Regions from separate parts of the Homo sapiens genome. Here regions 2 and 3 are each linked to region 1. Evidence: fine-mapped expression QTL. A gene starts in region 1. Each other region holds a variant in brackets. All regions are shown on one strand. Distances are from middle to middle. Region 1 holds the start of KANTR (KANTR integral membrane protein). Region 2 overlaps IQSEC2 (IQ motif and Sec7 domain ArfGEF 2). Region 3 has its middle 21 kb from the start of MIR6895.

What was found. PIP is the estimated chance that this variant, and not a neighbour inherited with it, causes the effect.
Region 2: its variant is the best candidate, but not a certain one, in a credible set for the expression of KANTR in stomach (GTEx, PIP 0.80).
Region 3: its variant is the best candidate, but not a certain one, in a credible set for the expression of KANTR in whole blood (TOPMed, PIP 0.86).

What each region holds. Positions count from the first base shown.
Region 1 is chrX:53,090,717-53,097,320 of GRCh38, forward strand. KANTR (KANTR integral membrane protein) reads left to right here and starts at 3,426. Exons shown (of 3, transcript NM_001397448.1): 1 at 3,426-3,568. RefSeq lists enhancers at 2,518-3,342, 3,055-3,114, 3,425-3,544 and a silencer at 3,605-3,754.
Region 2 is chrX:53,234,236-53,240,839 of GRCh38, forward strand. IQSEC2 (IQ motif and Sec7 domain ArfGEF 2) reads right to left here. Exons shown (of 15, transcript NM_001111125.3): 11 at 4,960-5,059; 12 at 3,910-4,071; 13 at 2,087-2,260; 14 at 1,548-1,597; 15 at 1-949. Among named protein-coding and RNA genes, the nearest start is that of KDM5C, 12 kb to the left of the region's middle. The variant T/C (reference allele first, on the strand shown) is at 2,418.
Region 3 is chrX:53,170,787-53,177,390 of GRCh38, forward strand. It overlaps a transcript of KDM5C not described here. Among named protein-coding and RNA genes, the nearest start is that of MIR6895, 21 kb to the right of the region's middle. The variant A/G (reference allele first, on the strand shown) is at 3,247.

The DNA.
Region 1 (6,604 bases):
AAGGATCCCAGCCAATCAGAGCCAGAGTAGCCAGTCTGGTTACTCTTGCCTCAGTCTGCCCTACCTCACAACATGACTCTCCTTGTCCTCTCTAGAGGGCCTCAGTTTTCCTATCTATAAACTGAGGCTTATCGTGCAGGGGGATCAGTCCAGGAGAAGCAACCTGCCTAAGGTCTCAAGACAGAGTCTAGCCTTGAAGCAGGTCTCTGAAGTCTGGCCTTCACTGTGCTCTTCCCTGATTCCTCTCTGTCCCCCCAATCAAATCCCCAGCCCCTCATCCTGGCATTTGAGACTCTTCTTCACCCACCCTGTTAGAGAGGGCCTCTGGTCTTCATCTTCAGTGATGCTCTTAAGAGTCAATCATAGTATTCTAGTATAGTTGGCCAGGGTGCTCATGTCCTCGGCTGAGCCATGTGAGGACAGGATGTTCTTTGCCCAGAGTAACATCTTGTTCCCTGTGCCCTCACTCTTCAGTCTGGACCTCCGAAAGAGAGGGCTGTTCTAGGTCTTTAAGGTCACATCTAGCTCCAAGATACTGTCTTCGCTGAAGGCCAGAGAAGACAGGCCCCATTGGCTGAGACCTTAAACAGAAACCAGGAGGATGAAGAGTCATGGGCCCAATGTGCCCTAGGGCCTGTTCCCATGTTGAAACTACTTGTCTTCATATGCTTCCTAGCTTGCCCTCGCTCCTTTGCAGCAGAGGGCCCTGCTCCTGGGTGGGAGGTTCCTGGGATTTCCTGGGACCAGACCTTTAAAGTGCCACCTACTTCTGTGAGTAGAATCGGATTGGCAGGGACAAAACTAGATTCAAGAATGTCCCTCCTTAGGTGACCCAAAGGGCTGGCACTGGCTCCCCCAGTTGGGGGTGTGCAGGATGGTTGGGAAGGAATCCTATTATTCATTCAGTAAACACTTATGAGTACTTACTGTGTGCCTGAAGTACTGAACTGGGTGATAGGGATACAGCAGGGAAACAAGATAGAGCAAGTCTTTTTTTTTTTTTCTTTGTTGCCCAGCCTGGAGTGCAGTGGCACAATCTCCGCTCACTGCAAGCTCCGCCTGCCGGGTTCACGCCATTCTCCTGCCTCAGCCTCCCGAGTAGCTGGGACTACAGGCGCCTGCCACCACGCCCGGCTAATTTTTTGTATTTTTAATAGAGACGGGGTTTCACCATGTTAGCCAGGATGGTCTCGATCTCCTGACCTCATGATCAGCCCGCCTCGGCCTCCCAAAGTCCTGGGATTACAGGCGTGAGCCACCGCACCCAGCCAATAGAGCAAGTCTTTTTCCTCCTGGAGCCTAGAGTTCAAGACAAATATTCTTAATATTTTTTGTGCCATGGACCCCTTTGGTGATCTAGTGAAGCCTAATGGGACCTTTCTTTTTCTTTTCTTTTCTTTTTTTTTTTTTTTTTTAGATGGAGTCTCACTCTTGTTGCTCAGGCTGGAGTGCAATGGTGCGATCTCGGCTCACTGCAACCTCCACCTCCTGGGTTCAAGCAATTCTCCTGCCTCAGCCTCCCGAGTAGCTGGGATTACAGGCGCCCGCCACCACGCCCGGCTAATTTTTGTATTTTTAGTAGAGACAGGGTTTCACCATGTTGGCCAGGCTGGTCGGGAACTCCTGACCTCAGGTGATTCACCCGCCTCCGACCTCCCAAAGTTCTGGGATTACAGGCATGAGCCACCATGCCCCACCAGACCTTTTCTCAGAAAAAAAAAATTGTTTAAATTCATAAAATAAAATATCTAGAATTACAAAAGAAATTGATTACATTGAAATATAGTTATTAAAATATGGAAAAAGCAAATATGTGCTATAGTATAATCGTATATGTACTCCCCATTAATCCATTAAATCATAAGATTTAATGGAGGGTCTAATGACTATCATGATTTTAAAATAATGATTGAAATTATATGATTTTCAAGAGATCTGCAACATCTATAATGTGATATGAAAATCTCTGATTTCTATTAGTGACAATCAGTACTGCTACTACTGCTGCTACTATGCCTAGTTACATTCTTTATTGAAAAATGCTAAATTTCAGTTAGAGGAGAGGGAAAATAAAGATGTAATTTTGTTTTATTTTTTTGAGACGGAGTTTCAATCTTGTTGCCCAGGCTGGAGTGCAATGGTACGATCTCAGCTCACGGCAACCTTCGCCTCCCAGGTTCAAGCGATTCTCCTGCCTCAGCCTCCCTAGTAGCTGGGATTACAGGCATGTGCCACCACGCCCGGCTAATTTTGTATTTTTAGTAGAGATGGGGTTTCTCCATGTTGGTCAGGCTGGTCTCGAACTCCGACCTCAGGTGATCCGCCCGCCTCGGCCTCCCAAAGTGCTGGGATTACAGGCATGAGTCACTGCGCCCGGCCATAAAGGTGTAAATTTGTTCCCATCCAAATTCATGGACCTCTCCAAACCCTGTCCCCAGCCTCGATTAGAGGTCTGCAGAATACAAATTAAGAACCCTTGCAAATAGGAGGGTCCTTCCCATCTCTCCTTCCTTCTTAAACAGTTTTCCTTTGGAAGCCTGGGTTTTATTCTGGGTCTTACTGCGCCGACTGCCGGCGGTGTACGGTAAGAAGACGCAAAGACGGGGCGGTGGTGGGGAGTGGTAGCGGGAAGAGGCAGGGCCGGAGCGCGCGAGGGGTGGGGCCTGGCTGTGTGACTTCAAGCCAGTCAGTTTGCCTCTCTGGGCCATAAGTTCTGTCCGCCTGAATACTGGGAAAGAATTGGGAGGAGAGAACTTAATTATTTATGCCCCAGGCAACTGATCTATATTTGCCCTCTCATTTAATCCTCACACATTGTGAGGAAAATTTTAAAACATCTTTCCATTTCCAGATGGTTAAACTGAGGCTCCTAGCGAGGTTGTCACTTGACCAATGTCTCAGCAGGTATCAGGGACTGGTAGGTGACACGCCACATCCCCATAGCCACCTCATCCTCCATGCATGGAATAAGGAACTCTGCTCACTTTGAGCGAGAGAAACCTGGCTTAGGAATCTCTGCAGGTGGGTGTGGAACTGTGAGAAACTAGGGGCAGAATCGCGTCTCTTAGCAGAGCGGTGGCAGTGCAAGGTGGCTTATGGAGAGTAAAACGTCAAAGAAGCCAGGCATCTCGATTGTGCAGTGACTCGGCGCCTGGCGTGGCTTCCGGCTTCCCGCCTGCGTATTCCCAAGTAGCCGCCTGAAGACCTGTCGAATAGACAGGCAAAGGGCCATGACAAGCACTCCTTTCCTGGCCAATCCTATTAAAGGGTGGGCTTGGCTCTTTAACCAATCAAAGTCCCCCGAAGGGGCGGAGTTTTCCTCGGTTTGGCTCTAAGCCTCGGGGGTAAAAATAAAATGTTTCCATCCCCAGCCAATCCCTGGAAAGGCAGAAGGGCACTCCTCCAATGGGAGCCGGGGAGCCGTCGGTAGCGGCGTAGGCCCGTGCCCCTGCTCGCGCTGCAGCCCGTGGAAGGGTTCCGTCCAGCGTATCCTTCAGATCTTGCTGTAGGCCTCTGGTGTCTGTGCGCGCGCGGCAGGGGCGGCGGCGGCGACGGCCGGAGGTGTACGGTGAGAAGCCATAAAGACGGGGCGGTGGGGGGAGTGGCAGCGGGAAGAGGCCGGCCGAAGCGCGCGAGGGGTGGGGCCTGCGCGAGCTTTTACTGGGGCGGCCTCTCAACCCTAGGTCAGCGGGTTGCGGAGGATCGTGCGGGTCGCAAAGGGAAGCCGAGTGCTCCTGCGGCTCCCAGACTGCAACCAGGTGAGTACCCTGCGGAGCGGTCGGTGCCCGTTGCTGCCCTCCCGCGGCCCCACCTCCCACCCTCAGTGTCTTTCGAAACGGTTCCATGCAGGTCTGCCGCTCACGTGATCGTCTGCGTGCGTGTCTGTCTTTGCATCCCCTCTCCCATCTCTGTCTCTGTCCCACTTTTTGAGACGTAGTAGATATAAGATGCTGAATCCTGACCAGTTTAAACTAGCTATGAAACCTTGAGCTATCTCCTTCACCAGCCTGGGCCTCAGTTTCCTCATCTGCCAAATGGGGGTCTGATAATGTGTACCTGAGACAATGCATGTGCATTACTTTGCCCTGCACCCGGTCCTTAGAAAATTTTCAATAAATAATGACTATCTTGACTGAAAAGAATATTGTCTCTCTTGGTTTCTGTCTTTTCTCTGTCTCTGACCCTTCCTCCATTGGATCTTTCTGAATGCTTCTGTCTTTCTCTGTTACTGTTTTTCCTCTTTTTACCCGTCTCTTTCTCAACCCTAAAGAGGTTAGAGGTGCATAGTTTATAGCAATAAGTTTTACCCCCGAGGACATGAGCTTAGCCTGGGGCTCCGACCTGTTCTGTGGGTAAAAAATGGAGCCTGGCTTTGGGTTGCTTCTGGTGTCATTGAAGAGAGAACTCTCTTTGCTCCCCAGCCTACTCTGTTAAACAGGTAGAGACACCCAAAGTTGGGAGCAACTTAGATTAAAAACCACTTTTTAATAGCCCCTTATCCTATATAATGTTAGTCACCACAGGAAGCCCACAGATCTCCTGGTTATGTCTCCATACAGCCCTGGACATCCTATTTTCTATTTCCATCCTGAAATCCTTTGACCAGGCCTTAAGGAACTCACCTTCAGTTATCAGCAAAATTCCCTCCATTCTCATCCTGGCTTCTGAATACTCCCTTTATTTTCTTGCTATGCTTTGGTCGTTCTCATACCTGTTGGACCCAACATTGCTTTTTTTTTTTAATAAGGTGTATTTTGAAATGCTTCACTATTCTAAAATGAAATGGATAGAAAATAGAATCTGTCTACACCCATAATTCCCTGAAAACCAATATAATGCCCTAATTGTAATATAGAGAGTAGTAAAGGAAGAGTAATATATAATATTATATTATACATATATCGCACATATATATGCAAAGACTGGGATATGACTCCATTAGAAGACATGATGAAATGGTCTTACACTTAATGATAGTGACAGCTACATGTGTGTTGATTGGTGATTCAGAAGCCACAGGTAGAGTGACACAGTTTTCCTAAATAATGAACAATTCTTCACAAAGTTCTAAACAAAACAATGTGGAAGAGTTTCTCAGTTTATATGGTCGTTAAATTTCTGGAAAAATCAGTATATATTAATATCCATGATGAGACCCTCTTAATCTCCCTGACCTTATCTCCCACCACTCTCCCCCCTTGCTCACTCTATCTACCCATGCTGGCCACCTTACTATTACTTGAACACCTTAGGCACACTTCCGCCTCAGGGGTTTTGCATTCCGTGTATCTGGAATGCTCTTTCCTCAAATACCCACAAGGCTCAGGCCCTTGCTTCCTTCAGGCCTCTACTCAGCTGTCACTTTCTCAGAGGGCCCCCCAACCATCCTGTTTAAAATTGCAGCTCTCCCCTAATATGCCCCTGCTCTGTCTGTTCCATGGTATTCTACACCTTTTTCACAGTGTAGCATTAACTGCTTAGTATGTTTGCTGTTTATTGTCTGACTCTCCCACTCAATTATAAGCTCCAGAAGGGCAGGGATTTTTGTCTTTTTTGTTCTATGATACATTCCTATTACCTAAAATAGTGCTTGACACCTAGTAGACTTTCTCAATGAATGTTTGTTGAATGAATAAAAGAACAAATGAACAGGTTTTTCACCTACATTACTGGTGAGATATTCTAAAGTTGTATGGAATGTGGTATGATTCTTTGTGGTGTGGAGCTGTCCTGTACACTGCAGAGGGCTGAGCATCCCTGGTCCATAGCTAGGGTTGTCACTGATGATCTCCAATTATTGTCACAGTCAAAAATGCCCCCCAAACAGGGCCGGGTGTGATGGCTCACGCCTGTAATCCCAGCACTTTGGGAGGCCAAGGTGGGCAGATCGCTTGAGTCCAGGAGTTCGAGACCAGCCTGGCCAACATGATGAAACCCCGTCTCTACAAAAAATACAAAAATTAGCCGGGTGTTGTGGTGCACGCCTGTGGTCCCAGCTACTTAGGAGGCTGAGATGGGAGGATTGCTTGAGCCCAGGAGGCAGAGGTTACAGTGAGCCAGGATTGCACCACTGCACTCCAGCCTGGGTGACAGCGAGACCCTGTCTCAAAAAAAAAAGCAGTAAAAAATGGGTCGGGCACTGTGGCTCACACCTGTAATCCCAGCACTTTGGGAGGCCGAGGTGGGTGGATCACCTGAGGTCAGGAGTTCAAGACCAGCCTGGCCAACATGGTAAAACCCCGTCTCTACTAATAATACAAAAATTAGCCAGGCCCACATGGTGGCACATGCCTGTAATCCCAGCTACTCGGAAGGCTGAGGCAGGAGAATCGCTTGAACCCAGGAGGCAGGGGTTGCAGTGAGCCAGCCTGGGCAACAAGAGCGAAACTTCGTCTCAAAAAAAAGAAAAAATGCCCTGAAACACCCTTTAATTGTCCAGCCCCCACCTCTCAGTGAGAACCATTGCTTAAGTAGCAGCCTGGCTTTCCCTGAACACTCTGTCCTCCCGGCAGCCCTCTCATACCCCTCTTACCGGGAAACTGGGTGGTGAGGGTGAGGGTGGGTATGCTTGCTCCTAGTTACCCTTTCCAGACATTCTTCCTCC
Region 2 (6,604 bases), 140 kb after region 1:
TCCGGCTTGGCTTGGCCTTGGGGTTTGCACTGGGGGGGTTGGCTGTGCCAGGGGGCCCAGAGGCGTGCAGCGGGCCATGGGGGGAGGTGGGTGGAAGGGGTGAGTGCGGGGTGTGAGGGGAGGGTGGGGGGAGGGGTGGATAGGAGGGGTGGGGTGGGATGGGTGAGTGTGGTGACAATGGTGACTGGGGGTGGTGGGGGTGGGAGTAGGAGCCCCCTGGTGGCCGGGATCCAGGGCCCCCAGCCGCGCCTGCTGCTGGCATCATCTGTGGGTGGTGGCTGAAGATGAAGTGCTTAGGGCCCTGTTTGTGGGCTGGAGGGTGCTGGGGGGCAGGACTGTACAGGGGCAGTGGGGATGTGGGCTGGTGCAGGGGGTGGCGGCCATGTGGAGCAAACTGAGGGTGTCCTCCAGCCCCCCGTCTGGGTGCCCTGCCTGGCCGGCCCAAGGTATAGTGTTGGGGCCCTGGGACTGGGCCATGGGCGTGGAAGTGGCGATGTGGCCCCACAGGTGGGGCTGAGGCGGGAGGCGGTGGAATGGAGCCCAGCTGGGGCAAGGGTGGGGGCTGCTGGGGAGGTGGGGGAAGAGAGGGCTGCTGGGGTGGGAGGTAGGGTGGCGGGGCAGGGCCCGGTCCTTGGCAATACTGGGCATGCAGGGCCTGGAGCTTGGACTGCCCATCAGGCAGCACCCCCAGGCCACCGTGGCTATGGCCATGATGGTGGTGGTGGTGGTGGTGGTGCGTGGAAGAAGCAGATGAAGAGGAGGCAGAGGCCTGGCCTGTTGGCGGTGGTGGCATCTGGAAGGGCCCCTTGCCCCGCTTGCTTCCAAATAGGGAGCCCAGGAAGGATGAGGAGTTGGAGACGGGCCTCTGGCTCTTGTACTCCTCTGGCGGCGGGGGTGGGGGCGGAGGTGGCATCCTCTGGTGAGGGCGTGGACTGCTAATAACAGACCCCTGGAAGCGGGGAGGGGGGAAGTCAGGCCAGGCTAGATGCCCTAAACCCCCAGCCCTAAATTCCACCCCTGTCCCTGAGGGCTGGAGCTGGGGAGACAGCAAACCCCAAGTTGTAATAAAAACCAAATCACAGTCCGGTACGCGTATGTGGAGCTCCCCAGCTTGCAAAGCTCGGCTGTCACATCCACTATCTCAGCTGAGCCTCAGCTGGGAGAGGAGAAATTAGCAGTACCTCCTCCTCATCCCCATTTTGCAGGCAGGGAAAAGGTTAGGCCCAGAGAGGCAGAGTGACTCGCCCAGGGTCAAAGAGCAGGACTTGGAGGTAAGAGCTTCTCGTGGCCCAACTCCAAGGGCATCCCTACTCGCCGTCGGCCCTGGGGTTGAGAGGGGGCACGGGAGAGTGGAAGACAGACTGAGAGACAGGCAGAATGAGGACAGACAGAGTTGAGGACAGATGGAGAGAGTGGTTGGCTGGGAGAGGCAGCCGCATGGTTCCCAGCAGGGAAGAGGGGGAGCAACAGGTCCCCTCCTCCTCTGGGTCTCCATGGCCGGGGCAGGGCTCATGCAGAGGACGAGTGGGGCAGGAGCTGGCACTTACTTCGATGGTGCTGTCCAGCGATCCCACGCTGTTACGCCGCCCCCGCTTCCCTGCACCCACAAGCAAGGAGCCCAGCGTCAGAGCAGCAACCCCCCCCCTACCCTGCTGGGCTCCAGAGCTGGGCACCAGGACTGGGCCCCTCCCGGGGACAGACACCCCATTATCCCTTTCCCCCATTGAAGAGGGGGAGGCGGGGAGGAGGAGAGGTGGAGAAGGAGGAGAAAGAGGAGGAAAAGATGGAGAAGGAGGAGTGGAGGTACAGGAGAGACAGAAGAGGGAGAAGAGGAGGAGAGGGGGAGCAGCGAGAGAGAGGGACCAAGACTGTGGCCCCACTTCACACTCCCTGGCCCAAAAGCTGGGCTCCCCCTGCTCTGACCTGGCTCCCAGGCCCCCTGTGGCGCAGCGCCCAGGGCTCTGGGTGAAGGCAGGGTGCGTGCATGTGTGGCAGGTGGAGGGAAGGCTGGCGGCCAGTGACAGGAGGCAAAGAGGACACCCGGTCCCGTGTCTCCCCAGCCAGGGCAGGGGCCCAGAGGGCTTACCTGCATCAGAGAGGTCTCGCAGGGAACTGCTGAGTGCGCCCCGTTTGAGCCCATCGCCTGCCCCGTAAGTGTCCTCCAGGCTACTGCGGGCCATCGTCCCATTCACTGAGTCCTTGGCCCCTCCAGGCTGTGAGGCGTTAGGCCGCATCATACCTTTCTGCTTCTCCAGCTCCGCTGGGTGGCAGTCGGGGAGACAGGGAGCAAAGGTCAGGAACAGGAGTGAGAGCCCATCTGACTGACCCTAGCCCTCCATGGGCCATTCTCCTTCCTCCTCCCTCCTCCCTCCCTCTGTCCCCAGGCTTCGTGTTTTGCCCCTTGGACGACCAGCCCT[T/C]GTCTCCCCCAAAACTGCAGCTCCATCACCGAAGCACCCTTAGTGCCCAGCTCCTGTCTTGCACCCTCCCTTCCTGCTCAGCCTTCCCTTCATCCCTCTTGGTGCCTGCTCTCCCTGTTCCCTTTCCCTTCCTTTCACCCTTCTGACTTCTCCCCTCCCATGCCCTCTTGCAATCAGGTCTCCCAAAGCACCCCTGCCCTTCAAAAAAGAGCTTCATGGCAGATGGTTCACAGTAAGGATGGTAAGGCCCTTCTAGCCTATGGCAAAGGGCAATCTTTCCAGAGTTCAGTCAGTTCTCAGATACCTTGCTCCGGAGCAGAGGGGCTCCTGGAAGGGCAGGAGCAGGAAACTGACAGGAATCAAATCCTCTTATTATGTGCCAGGCAGTATGCTGGGCGCTACACATACTTGATCTCTCTCAGTCCTCACAACAGTTCTGAGGTCAGTATTAGCATCCACATTGTGCAGAGGAAGAAACTGAGTATCCGAGAAGTCTTAGAGCTTGCCCAGGGTCATACAGCTGGAAATGGCAGAGCCGACATTCTGGAAGCAGGTCTGCCTGATTCCAGAGCTTGGGTGCTTCCGGCCTCCTACAGCCCCACCTCCCCACGGAGCTCATAGAAACACGTGTCTACTGGCCTCCCCTCGTCTTGGGCTACTAATCCCTCTCTCAGGATTTCCCCAGGGTCTCAAAGGATCTGGTGAACTGAAATTTCTATCCCTGCCTCGCTGAGAAGTAGAGTGGCCCTGGAGCTGTGAAGGCCTCACCAAGGAGCTGTCCGCCGCCTCGTCTCTGTCTGCCTGCCTCTTTCTCCTTAACACCATGTTACTTAACTGTGACTGCTTAGCCTGGAGAAGAGAAAACTTGGAGGGCATCGGGAGGAATGAGATGTAATCACTATTTTCCATTATATATATATGATCAAAATGACTTGGTGTGGCCCCTGGGGGCTGAGAGGATAGCCCACTGGGATTCAGCTCAGGAATTGATATGTGGGCAGAGGAGGAGAGAGGGTGGGACAGGAAATACGGATTTTTTGAATGCCTAAGATGTGTTGGGACATTTCGGCTACCTTGTCTCATTTCATCTCCATGACTCTGTGAAGGAGACTTCATTACCCCAATTTCGTATAGGAAGAAACTGGGGCTTGGCAGGTTAGGCAATTTGCTGCAGTTCACCCAGATAATGAGTAGTATACCTGGGATCTAAAACTATAGTCCTACCTCCAATACTCTGATTCTTCTCCCTGATACCTTTCACTAGAAGGAATAGTTGGCTCATAATTAGAGTTCAGGATAATAATGGGGTTGGGAGGTAATGAGCCCCTTGTCACTGAAGGTATTCAAGCAGAGGCTGAAGAATTCTTGAAATGAGGATGGGAAGGTTGGACAAGCTAACCCTCAACTCTGAGATTCTCTGAGGATAGGATTCTTGGTTTCTGCAGGGTACTGTTTCAGGAGAGCAGGGAGGAGACATGGCTGGGCTACTCACACTCCACACGGTATTTCTCCATCTCCTGCACCTCCGCAATGGACTCGCGCAGGTCGGATGTAAAGCGCAGCCGGTCCTGGAGGCTGGGGGCATTGAAGATGATGAGGACTTTTCGCTCCCCACCAGGTACTGCAGACAGCAACTTGATCCCAAACTGGTAATCTGTGGAGAAAGGGGAGACTGGGCACCTCTGTTGGGACTGGTGCAAGGTGGCTCATACATAAAATAATTTTTCTTTTCTGCTCTTTTTTTTCTGAGACAACATCTCTCTGTCACCCAGGCTGGAGTGCAGTGGTGCCATCATGGCTCACTGCAGCCTTGAACTCCTGGGCTCAAGTGATCCTTCTGCCTCAGCCTCCTGGGTAGCTGGGACCATGGGCACGCACCACATGCGCAGATTTTTTTTTATTTTCAGTAGAGATGGGGTCTCACTATGTTGCCCAGGCTGGTTTCGAATTCCTGGGCTCAAGCGATCCTCTTGCCTTGGCCTCCCAAAGTGCTGGGATTACAGGTGTGAGCCACCATGCCTAGCCCATGAAATAATTTTTCTACTGTCTAACTCTGATCATGCCTCTTCTCTGCTTGAGCATGTTTAGCAGCTCCCCTTTGCCCCAAAGCCCTCAAACTCCTGGTAGCTGTGGCCCTCTTACTCCCTGTACTGCAGGATGTAAAGGCACACAACTATGCACTGCTCTCTCGAAACCCTTTCCTTCTCACCTCTGCCTCAACTCACATTGCTTCTGCTGCCAGGAATACCACGCAACAAAGCTCCTCCTGGTTCATCCTTCAGAGCACAGCATGATCACCGTCTCTTTGGCCCACCAGAGAACACATGCACTGTGGTTCTCTGCAAGACCATGAGCTAACCAGGGGCTAGACCCAAGTCATACTCCACCCTGGCCTGCCCCTCATCCTGGGACCAAGTAGGTGCTTTGGAGACCCTTAGTCCGGTTGTAAGGGACTCCGAAAACTGGAGCTGGTATAGATGACGGGTGAGCATGGGGGCCATGACATAGACTCTCAGGAGCTGGGATCCAAGAAGGGACTCACATGAATTCTGGAAGAGCTGCATGTGCATTTCCACGAGGGGGAAAGACTGACGGAAACTGTACGTCACCAAGATCTTCTTCTTCTGGAAAATTTTGGTGACCTTTGGCAGGGGTGGGAAAAAGACAAGAGGCAGCGCTTTGGGTGGGGGATTTCCACGTGGCACCTATTTCTGGTAACCACCCTCCCCTCCCACCCCATTAACAGACACACACACACAAACACACATGCCCACAAGCTGGGGAGAATGGAAGCTTGAGGGACAGAATGGGAGACATGGAAGAAAACGCAAGTTCCTGATGTAATGACCACGCACCACAGACATTTACCACATTTCCAGAAACTAACTGAATCCTGCTTCCTCCAGGAAGCCTGCTCCAACATCCCACAGAGATTTGTAAACCCCTTTTCTGAGCTCCAGAATGGTGATTCAGTGCCTTTCCCTTGTCAGGCACTATGCTAGTCCTCTGAGTGTGTGATCGCCCCCTGCTGGACTGGAGGGCAGGAGTCTGGTTGTCGGGTTCTGTCACCAGGCCTTACCAGAGCCTGCACTTAATGGCAATCTCTGCTGAACCCATGTAGAGAGTTAATAAGTCTTCCTCTCAACAACCCAATATCTTTGTCGAGTACTTGGGCACTCTGGACTCAACTAACACAGGCTGCAAACACCTCAGGCGGTCTGCAAGTGGCTCGTAAAAGGAAATGTTTTGATTTCAGGATGGCACAATGACGCAAAGCACTTTTTTAGGTCCTTTGGGCTGTGAGCTCCCTGAGAACAGGGACTAAGTCTGATTCATCCTGGCATACCCAGTGCCTAGCATAGAGCTGGACATACACCAGTTTCAGTACCTGAGGGATGTCTACACATTGACTGTGTGGGCCAGGTACTCCCTGGGGTAGGGCAGATTCCACATATAACCTCTTATTTCATTTCATCCTCATGACAATCCTGTGAAGTAGGGGTTAGTTCCATTTCACAGAGGAGGAAACTAAGGCTCAGAGGGAGCATGGAAATACTTCGGCTAAAGCAGCAATGCTCAACTGGGGGTGATATTGCCCCCAGAGGACACGGAGCAACATCTGGAGACATTTTTGGTTGAAGGGTTGCTACTAGCACCTAGTAGGTAGAGACCAGGGTGCTGCTAAACATCCTACAGTGCACAGGACAGTCCCCGCAAAGAATTATCCAGCCCCAAATGTCAACAGTGATGAGACTGAGAAACCCTGCTCTAAAGGAGAGAAGACCACAGGGAGAACAGGATCAAGAGAGTCCTCAAATCCCTGGAGAGCTGTCTTGGAGCAGAGGTACAACACTTGTTCTTTGTGATGCCAAGGGTTGAGTGCAGATGGCTGGAAGAAACCCACAGGGAGACAAATTCTAGCAGTCAGAGCTGCCTAACAAGGCAACTGGCTGCCTTAGAGGAAGGCGGCTTTCTGTCCCTGCAGTCATACATCCAGTGGGCCATCTAGGAAGCTGGACCCTGAAAGTCCCTTCCAACCTGCAAAGTCCTAAGAGTCCCATCCCTAAAAGACAAACATCTCTACTTGTAATGAGCTCAGTTTGAAGAATCACTTCAAGCATCTTTTTTTTTTTTTTTTTTTGAGACAGAGTTTCACTTGTCGCCCAGGCTGGAGTGCAATGGAGCGA
Region 3 (6,604 bases), 80 kb after region 1:
ATAGCTGTTTCCAGCATAAAACCTTATATAAAATGCATATTCATAGAAGATGCTCAAGTATGTCATGAAAAATATGAAGTTTATTTAAATATTTATACAAATTAAAGATTTACTGTATTCTCTAACAGCGCGTATTTTCTTTTTTGTAATAACTATATGAAATAAATACAAAGTAACACGTTTTTACCAAGCCCCCTTCCCATCCTTCTCATCACCCTCAAACTCCCTCCAAATAGAGTCAGAGAAACAGCCAGAGGGATGTCTCCACTGAGACACAGGGAGGTCTTGCACCCAGGCAGTTCAGCAGTTCCTGGGCGGGTGGCCCTTCCCATCTGAGTACCCCTCAATGTGCCTGCTCCTCCTGGGATCCTTTCTGCTCCCTTGGGCCTCTGTTTTTGGTCTGCAATGGTTGGTTATGTAGAGGGATCAGTATTGGGGTTGTCCCAAGCCAGGCTACAGGTTGAGCAGGTAGCCACATAGGCCACATAGCAGGACGGGCCCAGCTGGGGACTCTGATGTCTGCAATTAGGGGTGGCAGGAAGTAATGGATGCACAGGCGCTGACTTGGCCTGGCCTTAAGCCTTAGTCTAGCGGAAAGGTCTGGCTGTTTACCTGCCTTCCTATTTGGAGCTGATCCCAGGACCAAACGGGATGCCATCGTACCAAGGGCAGGGAGATGAAGGGAGGCCCTCAGAAGAGAATGAGGCCTAAATGCCAGGTAAAGGGCAGGAAGGGGTTCAATCCCAGCAGCACCTCCTGGTGGTAGTTGGGGAAATAAAATGGCCAGAGAGGAGACTGGCCCTGAAGGCATCTCCAGAGCTTGAGTCCCTCAGTAGCCAACCTGAGCTCCTAAACCCCTCTGGACTAGGTCCCCTTCTCCACTTAACCTGCCTCCTCAAGAAAGACAGGATGGGGCCGGGCACAGTGTGGCTCGCGCCTGTAATCCTAGCATTTTGGGAGGCCGAGGCAGGTGGATCACCTGAGGTCAGGAGTTCGAGACCAGCCTGGCCAACGTGGTGAAACCCCGTCTCTACTAAAAATTTAAAAATTAGCCGGGCATGGTGGTGGGCGTCTGTAATCCCAGCTACTTGGGAGGCTGAGGCAGGAGAATCACTTGAACCTGGGAGGTGGAGGTTGCAGTGAGCCAAGATTGTGCCACTGCACTCCAGCCTGGGCAACAGAGTGAGACTCGGTCTCAAAAAGAAAGAGAGAGGAAGAGAGAAAAGAAAGGAAAGAAGAAAGAAAAGAAAAAGAAATAAAAAGAAGAAATAGAAGAAAAGAAGAAAGAAAAAAGAAAAAGAGGAAAGAAAGAAAAGAGAGGAAGAAGAGGGAGGGAGGGAGGGTGGGAGGGAGGACCTTCTGGCAGGTGCCCTGGGGAAAGGGGGATGGAGCTGGAGCATGATGTGGTGGTGGGGGCGGGTGGGTCTCTTCACCTCAGAGGACTGGGTGACCAACACTGCCTTGAAGCTGCCGTCTTTCTGGAGGCCATCACAGTCTGCGGGGGTCGCAAGTCAGGGTACCCCCAGTGACCCTGGCCCTATAAAGCCTTGCATTTCTCCACCTGATCTCCCTCCCATCTTACTTCCAGTGCCCCAGCCGTTCCCAGCAGGACAAGCTGGGCCCCACCGTCTGGTTTCTAGGCCTTAGCTACTGCTGAGGTGGATTCTCCTCCTTCTCACAACCTGAGAAACCCCTACTCATCTCTCCAGACAGTTCATCACCACCTTCTCTGGGGTCTTCCTTCACCTTCCTTCAGACACAGAAAAGTGAAAATATTAGCTATGAAAAATATATAGTTGAAAGAAAGAACACAATAGATGGGACAAATAGCAGGTTGACCACAGATGAAGAATGAATAAGTGAATTGGGAGATCAGATTGAGGACCTCTCCCAGAAAGCAGCAGGAAAGAATAAAAATATAGAAAACAATAATTTAAAAAACAAGAGAAATGGAGAAATGTCCGCATTTTGATAATAGCCTTAGAGTATAATCATAAATAAATAAAGAAAATATTTGAAGAATGGAGGTAAATATCCCAGGAATAAAGTTTGCTGAATACAAAATCAGCTTACGAAATTCTATTGTATTTCTATATAAAAACAAATACAGCTGAAAAACAAAAAATTAAATTATTTAAATAGCATTAAAAAATCACTTACCTAGAAATCCCAGGAATAAATCTAACAGACAATGTGTAAATCCTTTCTGGAGAAAACTATAGCACTTGCAAAAGAGAGATTAAGGAAGATGACCAATGCCGGGCATGGTGGCTCACTCCCGTAATCCCAGTAATTTGGGAGGCCGAGGCAGGAGGATCACCTGAGGTCAGGAGTTTGAGACCAGCCTGGCCAACATGGTGAAACCCCGTCTCTACTAAAAATACAAAAATCAGTTGGGCGTGGTGGTGTGCACCTATAATCCCAGCTACTCGGGAGGCTGAGAGAAAAGAATCACTTGAATCCGGGAGGCAGAGGTTGCAGTGAGCCAGGATCGAGCCATTGCACTCCATCCTGGGCGACAAGAGTGAAACTTCATCTCAAAAAAAAAAGACCACCCTGGGCAACATGGTGAAGCCCTGTCTCTGCAAAAAATACAAAAATTAGCCAGGTATGGTGGTGTATGCTTGTAGTCCCAACTACTTGGGAAGCTGTGGCAGGAGGATCACTTGAGCCTGGGAGGCGGAGGTTGTAGTGAGCTAAGATCGCACTATTGCACTCTAACCTAGGTGACAGAGTAAGACACTGTCTCAAAAAAAGAAAAAGAAAAAAAAAAGAGTAAATAACGCCTGTAATCCCAGCACTTTGGGAGGCCAACGCGGGAGGATCACTTGAGCCCAGGAGTTCAACATTAGCCTCGGCAACAGAGTGAGACCTTGTCTCTACAAATTTTTTTTTAATTAGCTGGGTGTGGTGTCACGCACCTATAGTCCCAGCTACTTGGGAGGCTAAGGTGGGATCACTTGAGCCTGGGAGGTCAAGGCTGCAGTGAGACATGATCACACCACTGCACTCCAGCCTGGGTGACAGAGTGAGACTCTGTCTCAAAAAAAAAAAAAAAGATGTAAATAAATGAAGTGAGATACCATATTCACATGCATAAGCTGCTGAACTCAGTATTACAAGAATGCCAGTTCTCCCCAAGTAGCTCTACAGATTCAATGTGATTCCAATTAAACCCTGATGGGTGGGTTGGTTGGTTTGTTTCTTTTGGTGGAACTTGACTGATTCTAAAATGTATATATTAAT[A/G]GAAATGAAAAAGTTAAGAATAGCCATGACTCCTGAAGAAGAACTATGATGGAGGACTTGATCTCTCAGATGTTAAGGGTTTTTTAAAAAAATAAAGCTATAGTAATTAAGAGTGTAGTACTGGCAGCCGGGCATGGTGGCTCACGCCTGTAATCCCAGCACTTTAGGAGGCCAAGGCAGGAGGATGACTTGAGGTCAGGAGTTCGAGACCAGCCTGGCAAACATGGTGAAACTCCGACTCTACTAATCCGACTGTACTAAAAATACAAAAATTAGCCAGGTGTGATGGCAGGTGCCTGTAATCCCAGCTACTTGGGAGGCTGAGGCAGAAGAATTGCTTGAACCCGGGAGGCGGAGGTTGCAGTGAGCTGAGATTGTGCCACTGCACTCCAGCCTGGGTGACAGAGCGAGACTCCATCAAAAAAAAAGAAAAAAGAAAAGAAGGATGAATCCATGCATATTCGCATACTTGATTTATCAAAAATGTGTCTCTGTAGAGCCATGGGAGCAGGGCAGTCTTTTCAACAAATGGTGCTGGGACAATTGGGTGCCCAGTTAAAAAAATAATAATAAATAACTAAAGCTAAATTGGGTATTTACGTCACATTATATATTTTTTAAAACTCAAATGATTCCCAGGTAGATTATAGACCTAAGTGTGAAAAGCAAAGAAAGTAACAAATGGGGTATATTCTTGACATTAGAATAGTAAAGTATTTATTTTTTAAAAAATAGAGATGGGAGGTCTTGCTACATTGCCCAGGCTGGTCTCAAACTCCTGGCCTCAAGTGATCCTCCCACCTTGGCCTCCCAAAGTCTTGGGATTACAGGCATGAGCCACCGCGCTGGGCCTGGGATGGTAAAAGATTTCTTAAACAAGACACCAAAAGTACAAACCATGAAAAGAAAGGACTGATAAAATTGACTCCGTCAAAAATAATAACTTCTTCACCCAGAGACACCATAAATGGTACAAAGGAAAACCACAAAATGGGAAAATTTGTTTGCATCACTTAAAATCAGATTCCATATCCAGATCGTAAGATGAAGTTCTACAATTCAACAAGAGAAAGATAGATAATCAATAGAAAAATATGTGAAAGAGTTGAACAGTTTTACAAGAGAGTACTTGAATGGCCAGTAAAAAAATATGAAAAGGTAGGCCTGGTGTGCTGGCTCATGCCTGCAATCCCAGCAACTTGGGAAGCCCAGGTGGGAGGATCAGTTGAGACCAGGAGTTGAAGACCAGCCTGGGCAACATAGTGAGACCATCTCTACAAATTTTTTTTTTAATATCCAGGCATGATGGTGGCATGCCTGTAGTCCCAGCTGCTTAGGAGCCTGAGGCAGGAGGACTGCCTGAGCCCAGCCCTGTAGTTCAAGGCTGCAGTGAGCTGTGATCATGCTACTGCACTCCAGCCTGGGCAACAGAGCAAGACCCTGTCTCTAAAAAGAAAAAAATATTAAAGGTGCTCAACTTCATTAATTATCAGGAAAATGCCTGTTTAACACACATGAGATACCATTTTACAATCCTCAGCTTGGCAAAAATTTAAAATTGACTGTTCCAAGGGTTGGGAAATATGTGGAATAATAGGACCTTTCATACTCTGCTGGTTGGAATATACATTAGTAAAACTACTTCTTCAGAAAAGTTTGACACTAGCTAGAAAAGTTAAAGATGTGCATACCTTTTGTCCCAATAAGTCATACACCCTACGGAAATGTATGCTTAGGGCCGGGTGCGGTGGCTCATGCCTGTAATCCCAGCACTTTGGGAGGCCAAGGTGGGCAAATCACCTGAGGTCAGGAGTTCGAGACCAGCCTGGTCAACATGGTGAAACCCCATCTCTACTACAAATACAAAAATTAGCTGGGTGTGGTGGTGCACACCTGTAGTCCCAGCTACTCGGGAGGCTGAGGCAGGAGAATGGCTTGAACCTGGGAGGTGGAGGTTGCAGTGAGCTGAGATTGCACCACTGTACTCCAGCCTGGGCGACAGAGCAAGACTCTGTCTTAAAACAAAACAAAAAAAAGTCTGCTTATGTATACCAGGAAATATGTACAAAAATGTTCTTGCAGCATTGTTTATACAGTTAAATATCAGAATGTTCCAAATGCCTTTCAAAAGTAGAGTTGACAGATTATGGTAGATTCATAAAATGAAATACTGTTGCCGAACACCAGGGGTTCAGCCTAGGCCTGGTTGCTTGCCGCACAGAAAGCCAATCACTGAGATGAATATTGCCAGGGAAGAACAGCTTTAATGCCAGTAATGTCAGCCAGGAGATGGGAGACCAGTCTCAAATCCATCTCTCCAATTGACTAAAGTTAGGGGTTTATATAGTAGGGAAGGAACGTAAAACAAGAATTAGGGAGGAGTAAGGAAGAGGAGTTGGTCAACGGGCAGCAGGTGGTTGGATGAGGGGTCTGGTGTCTCACCGTAACCATATGCAGGAAAACAGAAATTCGGGAGGTATAAAGAAGAGGAGTTTGTCAACAGGCAGCAGCCATGTCTCATTGTCTGGATGTGGTGATATGGGAGATTTCAGTTCCTCGATTCTCTCTGGGAGGCCTGATGGTTGGTTTCCTGAGAAAGGAACTCAGATAAAAACAAATATAAGTTTCTCAATTTTCAGTTTAGTGCAAAAACTGGGTTGATTTCAATACTATACAGGCAAGAAGATAAAGCACAGCTATATGTTAAAACGTGGATCAATCTTAAAAGCATAATGTTGAATGAAAGAAACCAAACACAAGAGAATACATACTGTACGACTCTATGATGTTAATAAAAACAGGCAAAACTAAACTACACAAATAGGAAGTCATGCTTAAGTGGTAAAATGTTAAAGAAAAGTAAGGAAGTGGTGACCATAAAAGTCAATGTTTGGATCCTGAATCAAACAATCTAACTATTAAAAGATATATTTTGGTCGGGTGTGGTGGCTCACACCTGTAATCCCAGCACTTTGTGAGGCCAAGATGGAAGGATCACTTGAGGCTGGAAGTTAGAGACCAGACTGGGCAACAGAGCAAAACTCTATCTCTACAAAAAAAATTCAAATTAGGTGCACTTGGTTTCTCAAGTCACCCACTTAGCCCTCTTCCAAGTTGTACTTTCCTTCTTTTCTTTCCTTTCCTTACTGTTCTAAAGCTTTTAAATAAACTTTCACTCCTGCTTTGAAAAAAATAAAAATTAGCCAGGTGTGGTGGTGTATGCCTGTAGGCCCAGCTACTCGGGAGGCTGAAGCTGGAGGATCACTGGAGCCCAGAAGCTTGAGGTTACAGTTTGAGCTATGATTGTGCTGCACTCCAGCCTGGATGACAGAACAAGACCCTGCATTTTAAAAAAATG